Linked DNA regions of Homo sapiens. The protein of the gene in region 1 purifies or fractionates together with the protein of each later gene. This does not show direct contact. Each region holds a gene or a part of one and is shown on either strand. Other genes may lie near its edges.

What was found. The genes of interacting proteins can lie anywhere in the genome.
Region 2: the proteins of IDH3A (region 1) and ABCC3 fractionate together in Homo sapiens (co-fractionation; one large-scale study listed by BioGRID). This does not show direct contact.
Region 3: the proteins of IDH3A (region 1) and PUDP fractionate together in Homo sapiens (co-fractionation; one large-scale study listed by BioGRID). This does not show direct contact.
Region 4: the proteins of IDH3A (region 1) and ABCC1 fractionate together in Homo sapiens (co-fractionation; one large-scale study listed by BioGRID). This does not show direct contact.

What each region holds. Positions count from the first base shown.
Region 1 is NC_000015.10:78,169,404-78,172,445, reverse strand, and holds the end of IDH3A (isocitrate dehydrogenase [NAD] subunit alpha, mitochondrial precursor), read right to left. Parts: 3' UTR 1,003-3,042; coding exon of another isoform or gene 917-1,002; 3' UTR 501-916; downstream 1-500. Other genes in the region: long-chain-fatty-acid--CoA ligase ACSBG1, read left to right, coding at 917-964. UniProt on the Homo sapiens protein: Catalytic subunit of the enzyme which catalyzes the decarboxylation of isocitrate (ICT) into alpha-ketoglutarate.
Region 2 is NC_000017.11:50,672,881-50,676,380, reverse strand, and holds part of ABCC3 (ATP-binding cassette sub-family C member 3), read right to left. Parts: intron 3,411-3,500; coding exon 3,243-3,410; intron 2,913-3,242; coding exon 2,723-2,912; intron 1,020-2,722; coding exon 905-1,019; intron 751-904; coding exon 606-750; intron 499-605; coding exon 291-498; intron 104-290; coding exon 1-103. UniProt on the Homo sapiens protein: ATP-dependent transporter of the ATP-binding cassette (ABC) family that binds and hydrolyzes ATP to enable active transport of various substrates including many drugs, toxicants and endogenous compound across cell membranes.
Region 3 is NC_000023.11:7,141,654-7,145,153, reverse strand, and holds part of PUDP (pseudouridine-5'-phosphatase), read left to right. Parts: intron 1-3,500. UniProt on the Homo sapiens protein: Dephosphorylates pseudouridine 5'-phosphate, a potential intermediate in rRNA degradation. Pseudouridine is then excreted intact in urine.
Region 4 is NC_000016.10:16,043,616-16,047,115, forward strand, and holds part of ABCC1 (multidrug resistance-associated protein 1), read left to right. Parts: intron 1-834; coding exon 835-1,065; intron 1,066-2,220; coding exon 2,221-2,398; intron 2,399-3,500.

The DNA.
Region 1 (3,042 bases):
AATTAGGGGAAGACCTCTCATAAAGACCATGGCAGAGGCTCCCCATAACCTGGGCTTCCCCTACCCCCATCACAACCATCAAAGCATAATGTCCAACGTTGTATAAACGTTCACAAAAATGCAGAGATGATGTGTACTAGCTATCTAATACATTGCTGTGTAACAAATGACCCCAAAAATGTAGCAGCCTAAAGCAGTAAACATTTATTATCCACATTTCTATGGGTCAAGAATCCAGGAACAGCTTAGCTGAGTGGTTCTGGCTTGGGTCTCACGGGATTACAGTCAATGTGAGCTGGGTGCAGTCACTTGCAGCTGAGGCTCACCTCCGCGCTCACTTACGTGGCTGTCGGCAGGCCTCAGCTCCTTGCTGTCTGCTGGCCAGAAACATCCGTGTGTGGCCAGTGGGCCTCTCATGGGCTGTGTATCCTCACAACATGGCAGCCGGCTTGCCCAGGAAGAATGGTCCAAGAGAAAGCCCAAGACAGAAACCTAGTCTATTTTTTAATTGCTTCAACAATTTATTCATTCAAGAGATGGAACAAATAAATCCATTTCAGAGAAAATGGACTGAGGGTCAAAACTGGGTACAGGTCAAGGAAAAGGCAGATGTAGCTTACACTACTTTCCTATGTGTATAAAAGAAACTGATCTTTTATAACCTATTCTCAGAGGTGACATACCAACCCTTCATCTATACTCCACTGGCCACAACCAGTGGTATAACACAGGAGACTACACACAAGCCATATGAATACCAGGAGCGATCACTGTCTTGGAGGCTGGCTACTGACGGTCCTGATTATCTGGCTTAATTCCTGAGTTATATATAGGACTGAGTGTGAGTCTTTACCACACACATTCTCAGAGTTCTCAGAGCCTGGGCCTCACTCATTTCTTCTCATTTCCCTTTTAGGTCCCACGATGAAACTGAAACGGCTCACAGTTTTGGAGAAGTACAAAGGTATCATTGACTCCTTTTACCAAGAGCAAAAAATGTAATCAGGGCCTATGCCTGCAGTTTCTATAGAATAGAGGGCAGGCGTTCCGAGCCTCTTCCTGAGCCCCAGGTCTCTTCAGTCTGGGCACAGGCATTTCTGCCAAGTCTGTTAGATCTCCAGGTCAGGGCACAGCACTGGCTCTACATTTACCAGGTCTTACGCCAACAATAGCTGACAATTCCAAGAAGCTTCACGTGTGGGTAGTTTTAATTCAGTTTAAGTATTGCTTTTTGTTCAGGTGACAAATGAGATCAGCTCTCCTTCCAGAACGAAAGGGCTGATAATTTTTGGCCTTAGTTCCAGGTAGATTAAAAAGCTGCTAGCTCACATACAGGACAGCCAGCAGTAGGCTGTGGAGCGGGTAGGAGAGAGATGGCTGATACTGCTCACGTGCGCTGCAGGAAAAGCAATCAGTCACAACTCACCTAGCGACCTGACTTACTCTGGAATCTTGGCGGGCATCGCCGACCCTATTATTCCATTACCAGGCACTCCGCCACCCACATGCCAACTGACTTGATGCTTAATAAAACTGCTGCTGCCTGTTTGATTCTATTTAATGTATAATTTGAATATTAAACCTTTTAACAGAACTGTCAACAAGGACCTGATTTTTTTTGTCAATTGAGCAGGTGGGACCAGTGCAGAGAGTAGTGGGCATTTAACTCACAGGACTGTGCACAGCGGGCATGCGAGTGACCATTAGTGCCCTGGAATAAACAAAGGTGCAGGATGGGGTCAAGTGGCGCATTCTCATAAAAGCAGCCAGCTCTACGTTAGCCTGTCGCCACCAGACCACCCCACTTCCATTCTGAATACGGGAAGCAGCCATTCTCAGTAGCAAGCTGAGCCAAAATGACCGAAGGCATCTGAACAGGAAACAGGTAGAGAAAGCAAACATCTCAGTTTTGGAATTCTTTATTACTTTGAACCCAAGAGCCACTGATAACTGGCACAATCCAATGAAACAGAGGAAGCAGCAGCTTAAACAAAGGAAAATACATTTAAGATTATAAGTCTGGGGGGGCGGTTACAAGCTTAAAAAGTGACCCAGACAGGGATATCATTGCTAAAAAAAAAAAAATCCCCTTGTGACCTGGGTACATTTTGCAAAGCCACAGGTTTGCAATGTTACACAAGGGCCAAAGGAGGCCATGAGTTGTCTTTGGTTGTGGGGACAGAGGGTAACTGTTCATGAAAATAGTGAGTGTCTGAAGATTAAGAAAATCATGCTGCAGCAGAGGAGAAGGGAGAGGAAGACAGGAAGGGAAAGGAGATGCCTGAGGGTCAAAAGCTGAGCCCAAGCCTAAGCCCAAGCTCAAGCTCAAGCCCCAGCATGGCATAATTTTGTGAATTAACTCAGGCTGAGTTGCCTCCAGTCTTTGGAATGTCATCTTATACTGGTACTGCTGAGGCAGAGGGCAGTAATTGGTGCTTTGGGATAGGAGAAGGGGCAGTTGCTGAAATACAAAATTAATAGCATCCCAAGTTCCTCAATTGCAGCCAAAATACATGTGTTCGGGCCTTTCGGCAGTATCGCCCCCAGAACTACCTGCTGTAGTGTGGTCCATTCCCAGACAGCAACATGCAAGAATAAGTTTACAATACACTCAGCCCTTCTGGCTTCAGATCAGGGGCTCAGAGGCTGTGACAACTCATGATGCTGAAAATGTATCCAGTGAAAATGAAGTACTAGCTCTCTGCTTCATTAAAAGCTCTTGGAAAGAATATTAAATCTCAAGACAACAAAATAATTGAACACACAATACATTTGTGTCTTTGTATCCAATATATTACCTTTGTCTTATTAACAAAAATTATATCTCTCATTATATATTTCTTGGATCTGAAGTTTTTATTCACACTCAGTAATTTCTGTAAAGGACAAATCTGTCTCTATTTTCCATATCATTTAGAAATATACCACATTCACTCTTTTTGATGTGAACTTTCCCAGGAAAATTCTCTTGTGCCCATTTAGTTTTAGAAGAGTGTCATTTTGTGCTATTATGTCAATATCCTGTTTTATTTCCATTATGTT
Region 2 (3,500 bases), on another chromosome or scaffold:
TGTGGCGAGCGTATCTTGTTGTGCAGCAGTGCCTGGTGCAACACACGGGCAGCCTGGATGCCACCCGCTGCCATGGCCATGGCTGCCAGCATCACCAAGAACCCTGTTGGAGAAGGCAGAGGGCGCTGGCTCACCTGGACTAGTGAGCGGGCACAAAGGGGCAGAATCAGAGACACGGGTTGACCAGAGTGGGTTAGGGAGGCTTGGATGCAAGGGCACGGTTTGGGGGGCCTGGCAGCCCAGAGAAGAAGGGATATTGGAGCCCCTTCTGGACACCCCCACAAGCTCACCTTGCAGAATTCCTAAAGCAGCATAGACGCCCAGCCTCAGGGAAGTGTTGTTCTGTCTACTGTCTGCCATGGCATCATTTGTCCAGGCACTGAGCCACACATTGGCTCCAATGGCAGCCGCACTTTGACCCACATACAGGAGACAGATGGCCAGCGTGGTACAGAGCCCCACGGCCTTGGCATAATCCCAGAACACACTGAGCTCCACCTGTAGGGAGCAGCCATGGCAGTCAGGGACAGGGGACTCCATAAACCCTGGGGCTGCTGGGGCCTGCCTGTCCATCCCCTCCAGCCCCTCTTGCCCCACCGACTCACAGTGCCAATGGCTGCTTTCTCCTCCTGGGTCAGTGCCCCATCTGCCTTCGCCTCTGTCACCTGCACCTTCTCTGATGGACCCAGGTGCCTCCGGGGTACAGGCCGACCCTGTCCCTCCCCATCTGAGGACAGGGCACTCAGCTGTCTGTGGAGGCAGCTGGTCAGGCCCAGGGAGGGGGCCTCAAGCACCCCCCAGGACAGAGGCTGGGAGTGTCAGGGAGAAACCTGCACCCCATCTGGCAGGGCCTGGGGAGGCCTGATACAGCCTCCGGGAGGGCTGGGAGCTCTCAGGAACTCACCTCATAAACTGCTTCTGGACCACATAGGTGACTGGATCATTGTCTGTCAGATCCGTGTGGTTGCTGAGTGTGTCTTCAATCAGCAGTGCCTCCTTATCCTCTGCACCTTCCAACGCTGCAGTAGGGTGGGAGGAAGGAGATAGGGTTCAGCTAGTTCTCCCTGCAAGCCCCTGGTATCTCCCATTCCCCACTCTAATGAAAGGGGTTCAATGGACAAGCATGAAAATAAAATGAGGGGGATTGAAAGGGCAACAAGAAAGACTTGGGTTAAGCAACAAGAAAAACTCTCTTCACAAATTATGGAGAAACGGACTCAAATACAAGGGTTAGGAACTTGGGCTCTGGAGTTAGACTGGCTGAGCTTAAAACTCACGTCCTTGGTCGGGCATGGTGGCTCACGCCTGTAATCCCAGCACTTTGGGAGGCTGAGGCAGGCAGCTCACGAGGTCAGGAGATCGAGACCAGCCTGGCCAACATGGTGAAACCCCGTCTCTACTAAAAATACAAAAATTAGCCGGGCGTGGTGGCGGGCACCTATAATCCTGGCTACTCGGGAGGCTGAGGCAGGAGAATCGCTTGAACCCAGGAGGCAAAGGTTGCAGTGAGCCAAGATCGCACCGTTGCACTCCAGCCTGGGCAACAGAGTGAGAAACTGTCCCCAAAAAAAAAAAAAAAAAATCTGCATGACTGTAGGCTTAAAAGAAAATGTGTCCAGTGTGTGAGCGAGGGGCACAGCACTTGGTAAATGCTCAAGGCACGTTGGCTGTATGTATAGCCATAGGCAAGAAAGCCCAGGAAAAGGTCTGTGAGCCAATCCAGAATTGGGGGCTGGGGAGCTGGGTCTGGGCAACAAGGAGCCAGGGGCATGTTGTGAGCCCAGAGACGTCAACAAGCTCCATGAGGACTATAATTTTTTTGTTTGCTCACTGCTATAGCTTAGTGTCTGGAACAGTGCCTGTATATAGTGATTGTCCAATAAATTTTGGTTGATAAATAAGCGGCTTTGCTAAGCACTTGCATACTTGCCAAACTATTTATCCATGAAGCAGCCTTGCCACACAAGCTGGGCCTGGGCCCTCCTATGCTTTCAACAGATGGAAAACAGGCTCTGAGATCGGGCAAGGTGGCTCACACCTGTAATCCCAGCACTTTGGGAGGCCGAGGCAGGCAGATCACGAGGTCAAGAGATCGAGACCATCCTGGCCAACATGGTGAAACCATGTCTGTACTAAAAATACAAAAATTAGCCAGGCGTGGTGGCGCATGCCTGTAGTCCCAGCTACTCGGGAGCCTGAGGCAGGAGAATCACTTGAACCTGGGAGGCAGAGGTTGCAGTGAGCTGAGATTGTACCACTGCACTCCAGCCCGGCGACAGAGCCAGACTCTGCCTCAAAAGAAAAAAAAGAAAGAAAGAAAGAAAGAAAGAAAGAAAGAAAGAAAGAGAGAGAGAGAGAGAGAGAGAGAGAGAGAGAGAGAGAGAGAGAGAGAGAGAGAGAGAAAGAAAGAAAGAAAGAAAGAAAGAAAGAAAGAAAGAAAGAAAGAAAGAAAGAAAGAAAGAAAGAAAGAAAGAAAGAAAACAGGCTCTGAGACCGGGGCGGAGGATCTGAGTTCCCACAGTTAGGGTAGAGTAGGATGGAGGAGGCAGTGGGACCCGACTATGTCCAGTTTACTTTACCTCTGGTGACTGTCACACAGATGGCCCAAGTTTCCCAGAACCTGCCTGGCACAACACTAGGCCAGTCTAGACACACTCAGAGACCCCAGACAGGGGGAATGCTGGGAAGGCATGGGAATCAGAGGGCCCAGGATGGCAGATACCGGTCCAGCTGTCCTCCAGGTGCCCTTGGTCCTCATCGGGGGCATAGTTGCAGAGAAAGTTGGCAAAGGAGCCGTTGCGCTGCAGCAGGGCTGGGTACGGGCCCATCTCAGACACCTGTCCATCAGCTAGCACAATGATGAAGTCTGTCTGGGGCAGGAAGCTAATGCCGTGCGTCACCAGCACTCGCGTCTGGGGAGAAGGCAGCAGGCTCTCACCCCTACCACCCTCCAGCACACCCCTGGCACAGGCACGGAGCCACAGAGTGAGTGTGAAGTGTGCCCATGTGCCAGGGAGCTTGGACAGGCACATGGGTGACTCACCCTGTGCTCGCCACAGCCTGCTCAGAACCTCGCAGGTGGGGGAGTTGTCCCCACAGGTTTCTCCTGATGCCCAACCCACATGCCCACTTCTTGCGCCCCCCACACCTCCAAGTCTCATCCAAACCCCTCAGCCTCTCACCAGCTCTCTCTTCGGGCCTCAGATCTCACCTTAGCCCCCTTAGCCTCTGGCAGGCCTCACCTTGCCTGCCAGCACGCCTTCTGGCCCGATGACGTGGTCAAAGATGTGCTTGGCCACATGAGAGTCCACCGCGGACAGTGGGTCATCCAGCAAGAAAATATCGGCATCACTGTAAACAGCTCGAGCCAGACTGACCCGCTGCCGCTGGCCCCCAGACAGGTTAATGCCCTGGAGGGAGGCGGGGGGTGGGAAAAATGGGGTCAGACAGGCACAGGGAGACAACGGCCTGTCCACTGTTATTTGGGATGGCAGATTTTT
Region 3 (3,500 bases), on another chromosome or scaffold:
TAATTTTGATACTAGGTCCTCAAAATCTGTGTGTGTTTTATACATACAACACATCTTAGTTTGAACTAGCCTCATTTCAGGCACTCTGTAGCCTCATTTGGTGGGTGGCTACTGGCTTGGACAGCATGGGTCTAGGTCTTTGTGGAGCAACCCAAGATGTCTGTTGATAATGGCTATGCTGGGAGGGTCAGGCAGAGGGTGGGTGTTAAGAATATTCAGAATTAGGAGTTTTGGTGTATGTAAAATGTGGTATGTGTAAAATGTGTTTTCTTGGAGTCTAATACAGAATTATTTAAAATCCTTTTAAAATCAAAGGAAAATAAGCTTATTTCCAGTTTCTTAAATATCGTAAAATAATAAGGTAGATCTGCGAAGGGTAATAAGAACATTTGCAGTGTTGACCATAATATACCATATCTTTATAAATCCAGATTGCAGGATTTTAATGAGTGACTTCTACTTCACCTTTAGTAAAATGAAGACCTCTTCTGTGCCTTTTTGCACTCCCGTAGCTTCCTCCTTGCCAAATAATAGCACTTGAGACTATAAGTGCCTGCCTCACTGTCTGGGGCCCAGGAGACCCTAAAAGGTCATGGAGGTAGGGTCTCTGTGGGGATTACCAAGCCCAGTACTGATGGGATTGTGGGCTGCCTGAGACAGTTGACAGTCATGTCCACTGTGTGGCCAAAATTCCACAGACATAGCGTGAGTGTGTTTTGCGCTGTCATTCTTTGTTAACTTCATGTAGGCTGTTTCTTTAGACACCAGAACATCTATATAGCTGATGACAAAAATAGATTTTTCTTACGTAATATTAGCGCATGCCCTAGGTGGATTGTCAGAAGAATCTATGTATGTTGTCATTTGACCCCATGAAATACGTCTGAGGTTTAAAAGTGCAGCTGACAAGCTTTTCAGCCTCAGTCGGTTCTTACTACTTGATGTTATCAAGTCATTCATTCCAAGTGGGATTTCTAAGAGTTTTGGCACATTTCTGAGGAAGGTGGAGCAAAGTGAAGGATCATTCTGCATGCTTCCATAGGTGGTTATTGTTTAACCCCAGAACGTGCAGTGATCCTAGTTGGAATGAGATCGTAATCACAATCTCCCCTCCTTCCATCATTTGTAATGGGTCTTGCTCTGGATGTCAAAGCAACTCTGGTGGTAGGTTCACATTCTTTCTTTGCCCTGTCTTCCCTGGAGGCTGACAGTGTACCCTTGGGTTTTACCCTTGCTAGGTGAAATGTAGGTTCTCTTCCACGTTTGCAAAGGAGATGGCTGAGGGTGGAGGCCAGTGTGAGGGCTTGGGACAGAGATGAACCCTTATCTCAGGGGCCATGATTGGCCTTTCACTACAGGGTGATCAATGAGTAATCTGTTGTTTCTGGAAACTGAAAAGGCTTCTGGAATATAGAAAGCACAAGACACGTGTGTTCCTATTAAGGGTCCGAAGAGATTTAGAGTAAGATGCTATATTGTATGTTGGAGAAACAGCATCAGATTATAGATTTAGCTCCGTTTGGTTCTGTTTTCTAATTGACCTGAACCATGCCAACCTTAAGTTCTTGTAGTAAGTGGTTGGTTGTCCACTGCAGCTGTTTCTGTTTCTAGAATAATTGAGAAGGGGGTAAAACTTAAATTGCAAAATTCTGCAGATAAATAATAAGAGTTTTGTCCAGCTGGCAACACAAATATTCAGCAGATTCTAGGCATGCAGGTGTAAAATATCCTTTTCTTTTTTCTAGCTCTCTCTTTCAAATAAAAGCAATATGGTTTTATTTAGAATCTTTAAGTAAACTGGATACAGGCATGTGTGAGAACTATTGTGGGTTCAGTTCCAGACCATCACAGTAAAGCAAACATCGCAATAAAATTAGTCACATGAAGTTTTTGGTTTCCCAGTACACATAAGGTTAGGTTTATACTATACTGTATTCTATTAGGTGTACAATAGCATTATGTCTAAAAAATGTACATAACCTTAAATACATTTTATTGCTTTAAAAAAAAAAGTGCTAGGGATCATGTCATCCTTCAGTGAGTTGTAATTCTTTTGCTGGTGGAAGGTGTTGTCTTGATATTGACTGTTGACCAGAGTAGTGGTTGCTGAAGGTTGGGGTGGCTGTGGCAATTTTAAAAAATAAAACAGCAATGAAGTTTGCCACATCACTTGATTCTTTCTTTTACAAAAAAATTCTCTTTTGGCGAGGCATGGTGGCTCATGCCTATAATCCCAGCACTTTGGGAGGCAGAGGCAGGCAGATCACTTGAGGTCAGGAGTTCGAGACCAGTCTGGCCAACATGGCAAAACCCCATCTCTACCAAAAATACACACACAAAAATTAGCCAGGCATGATGGTGCACACATGTAGTCCCAGCTACTCAGGAGGCTGAGGCCCGAGAATCACTTGAACCCGGGAGGCTGAGGTTGCAGTGAGCCGAGATCCCACCACTGCACTCCAGCCTGGACGACAGAGTAAGACTCTGTCTCAAAAAAAAAAAAAAAAAAAAATTGGAGTCCTCTCAAACTCTGCTGCTGCTGCTTTACCAACTAAGTTTATGTTAATATAGTGAATCCTTTGTTGTCACTTCAACAATGTTCAACAACATCTTCACCAGAAATAGATTTTTATCTCCAGAAACCACTTTCTTTTCGCGTCCCTAAGAAGCAGTGTCTATTCAGTTCAGGTTTCATCCTGAGATTGCAGCAACTCAGTCAAATCTTCAGGCTTCACTTCTAATTCTAGTTCTCTTGGTATTTCCATCACATTCTGCAGTTACTTCCTCTGCTGAAGTCTTGAACCCCTCAAAGTCATCCATGAGGATTGGAATCAACTCCTTACAAACTCCTGTTAACATTGATATTTTCATCTTTTCCCATGGATCATGAATGTTGTGAATGGCATCTGGAATGCTAAATCCTTTCCTGAAGGTTTTCCATTTACTTTGCCTAGATGCATCAGAGGAATCACTATCTATGGCATCTATAACCTTAGGAAATGCATATCCTAAGTAATAAGACTTGAAAGTTGAAGTTACTCCTCAATCCATGGGCTGCAGAGTAGATGTCGTGTTAGCAGGCCTGAAAATAACACGAATCTCCTTGTACATCTCCATCAGAGCTCTTGGGTGACCAGGTACGTTGTCAGTGGGCAGAAATATTTTGAAAGAAATATTTGTTTTTGAGCAGTAATTCTTAATAGTGGGCTTAAAATATTCGGTAAACCATGCTGTAAACAGATGTGCTGTCATCCAAGCTTTGCTGTTCCATTTACAAAGCCCAGGAAGAGAAGATTCAGCATCATTTTTAAGAGCACTAGGATTTTCAGAATTGTAAATGAGCACTGGCTTCAAGTTAAAGTCACCATCTGCATTAGCCACTAACACAAAAGTCCGCCTGTCCTTTAAAGCTTTCAAGCCAGACACTGACTTCTCCTCTCTAGCTATGAACGTCATGGGTGGCATTTTCTTCCAATAGAAGGCTGTTTTGTCTACATTGA
Region 4 (3,500 bases), on another chromosome or scaffold:
TTTTGAGATGGAGTTTTGCTCTGTCACCCAGGCTGGAGTGCAATGGCCTGATCTCCACTCACAGCAACCTCCACCTCCCAGGTTCAAGTAATTCTCCTGCCTCAGCCTCCCAAGTAGCTGGGATTACAGGCACCTGCCATCATGCCCGGCTAATTTTTGTATTTTTAGTAGAGATGGGGTTTCACTATGTTGGTCAGGCTGGTCTCAAACTCCTGACCCCAAGTGATCCAGCCACCTTGGCCTCCCAAAGTGCTGGGATTACAGGTGTGAACCACCACTCCTGGCCATGATTGTTATTTTGTATTGTTTTGAAATCAGGAAGTGTGAATCCTCCAACTTGATTCTTATTTTTCATGATTGTTTTGACTGTTCTGGATCCTTGAGTTTCCATGTGAATTTTAAAGTTAGCTCATAATTTCTACCTGGCAGCCAGCTGGGCTTTTGATGGGGATTGCCTTGACTCTAGATCAGTTTGGAGCCATCAGTTTTCTAAGTCTTTAACTTATTCAACTCGTTTAATCTTACCTACCTTGGAGGTAGGTCCTACTTTTATCCTCATTTCACAGAGGAGGAAACTGAGGCCCAGAGAGCTTAAGGACCTTGTCTGAAGTCACGCAGCTGGCCAGTGGCCAAGCCAGACCTTGAGCCGGTGGCTCTGGAGCCCGTGGCTCTGGAGCCCGTGTTTGTAACCACTGTGCTGAGCTGCCTCTTTCCCTGGGCTTGTTGTCTTTGACTCTGCCTTCCCTGAAGGGTGACATTCCCTGGCCATGTCCCTGTGGTAGGGGGCTGCATCTCTGGCAGACCCCACAACGGCTTCACCTCCTTGTGTTCCAGGCAGCCGGTGAAGGTTGTGTACTCCTCCAAGGATCCTGCCCAGCCGAAAGAGAGTTCCAAGGTGGATGCGAATGAGGAGGTGGAGGCTTTGATCGTCAAGTCCCCACAGAAGGAGTGGAACCCCTCTCTGTTTAAGGTGTTATACAAGACCTTTGGGCCCTACTTCCTCATGAGCTTCTTCTTCAAGGCCATCCACGACCTGATGATGTTTTCCGGGCCGCAGATCTTAAAGTAAGACCCCTTCCCTCCCAGGTGGGCTCCATTTTCCCTCCTTGGCTTTGATCTTTCAGTTGCATCAGTCATAACCCTGGGGTCATGCTGTGTCCTGAAGTGGGCTCATAGCCAGATGTCTCCATTTTTACTTTAGCTTTTTTGAAAAAAATAGAGACAGGGTCTTGCTTTGTTGGTCAGGCTGGTCTCGAGCTCCTGACTTCAAGCGATCCTCCTGCCTCGGCCTCCCAAAGTGCTGGGATTGCAGATGTGAGCCATGGTCACTGCCTAGCTTTACTTTATGCTTTACTTAATTACCATATTAGTGAAGACCACATCGTTTGCAAGTAACAGAAACCCACTAGGCTCCCCTAAAACCCAAATGGGGAGGATATGGCATTGTCTTGGGAAACCAAGAGCAAGGAAATGCCAGCAGATCTCATGAAAAAACTGCAACCAGGGTTGGGCGCAGTGGCTCATGCCTATAATCCCAGCACTTTGAGAGGCTGAGGTGGGAAGATCACCTGAGGTCAGGAGGTCAAGACCAGCCTGGCCAGCATGGTAAAACCATCTGCTAAAAATACAAAAATTAGCCGGGCGTGGTGGTGCACGCCTGTAATCCCAGCTACTCAGGAGGCTGAGGCATAAAAATTGCTTGAACCCAGGAGGCAGAGGTTACAGCAAGCTGATTGCATCACTGAACTCAAACCTTGGCGACAGAGCAAGACTTTGTCTCAAAAAAAAAAAAAAAAAAAAAAAGAATAAAAACAACAACAAAAAACTGCAACCAGGAACTGGGGAGTCAGAAAGGAAGTTGCCTCTCTCCTACCTGGCTCTCTGCTGCTCTGTGACTCAGGGGCTACACATCCCTTCTCTTTTCCTCCCTACCTCTTTACCTCGTGTTCCCTATGCAATTCCTTTGGGTGACTTGCTGGTGATGAGATATAGCTAGAGCAATTAGTGCACAACCCCAAGGCAGAGGCCTCTTTTATGAGCAGTTTGGGTCACCTGCACAGCCAGATCACCACTGTGGACTTGTTTTTCCATCTATGAAATTGAAGTGATAGTGTCTAGCTCATCTGGCTCAGGAGAAAGTTGCAGTGCCAACACTGAAGCTCTCTTCCCTGCCCCCACGTGTCACAAGTCATTCCAGGCCCTCTCTTTGCTCCTTTGCAGGTTGCTCATCAAGTTCGTGAATGACACGAAGGCCCCAGACTGGCAGGGCTACTTCTACACCGTGCTGCTGTTTGTCACTGCCTGCCTGCAGACCCTCGTGCTGCACCAGTACTTCCACATCTGCTTCGTCAGTGGCATGAGGATCAAGACCGCTGTCATTGGGGCTGTCTATCGGAAGGTAGGGGACGCTGTGCCATTGGCATGTGGCCCGACTTCCACATCCCCTCCTGCAGCCCTGGGTTACTCTGGGGCCAGCGTGGGGATTTCCAGCCCAGCTTCTGGAGCAGTAGGATGAGGGTAGCTTCCGTGACCTTAGGTGGCAGGGACAGCACGCATCAGGCATTGTACGTTAGGAAAGCTGATTTCAAGGGTGGGCGTGTAGATGTCTTTGTGTATCAGCTGTGAGTAATTGAGTTTCTTAGATGGATCAGTGGCCCTTGTTGTGGGGAAATCCAAGTTTGGATCCTCATTCTGCTGTTAACATTCTGTGTTTCAGCTTGTTGTCACTCTTTTTTTTTCGTTTTTTTGAGACCAGGTCTCACTCTCTCCCCCAGACTGGAGTGCAGTGGCATGATATTGGCTCACTGCAACTTCTGCCTCCTGAGTTCAAGCGATTCTTCTGCCTCAGCCTCCTGAGTAGCGGGGACTACAGGCGCCTGCCACCACGACCGGCTAATTTTTGTATTTTTAGTAGAGACAGGGTTTCGCCATGTTGGCCAGGCTGATCTTGAACTGCTGACCTCAGGTGATCCGCCTGCCTCAGCCTCCCAAAGTGCTGGGATTACAGGCATGAGCCACCGCGCCCAGCCTGTTGTCACTCTTAATTTGAACTGAGCAGGTGGCACATTCCTTGCATGGTAAGAGTATGTAGCAGGCATTTGTGTACATCCAATTTCAAAGGACCTAAATTACCTTCTTGATCCCTATAAATTTTTTTTTTTTTTTGTCTCGAGGTCAAGGAAACTGCTTGGCTCCTAGGTTAGGAAGAGACAGTCTTGCAGGTACTTGATGAACTAGAGGAGTGATTCTCAGGCCTGTCTGTGAATTAGACTCACCTGGGGAGCTTAAACTGATGCAGGCCAGGCACTGTAGCTCATGCCTGTAATCCCAGCAGCTTGGGAGACCAAGGTGGGGGAATCACTGGAGGCTTGGAAGTTCAATACCAGCCTGGTCAATATAGCAAGACCCTGGCTCTGCAGAAAATTTAAAAAAATTAGCCAGGTATGGTGGTGCGTACCTGTAGTCCCGTCTACTCAGGAGATTGAGTTAAAAGAATCACT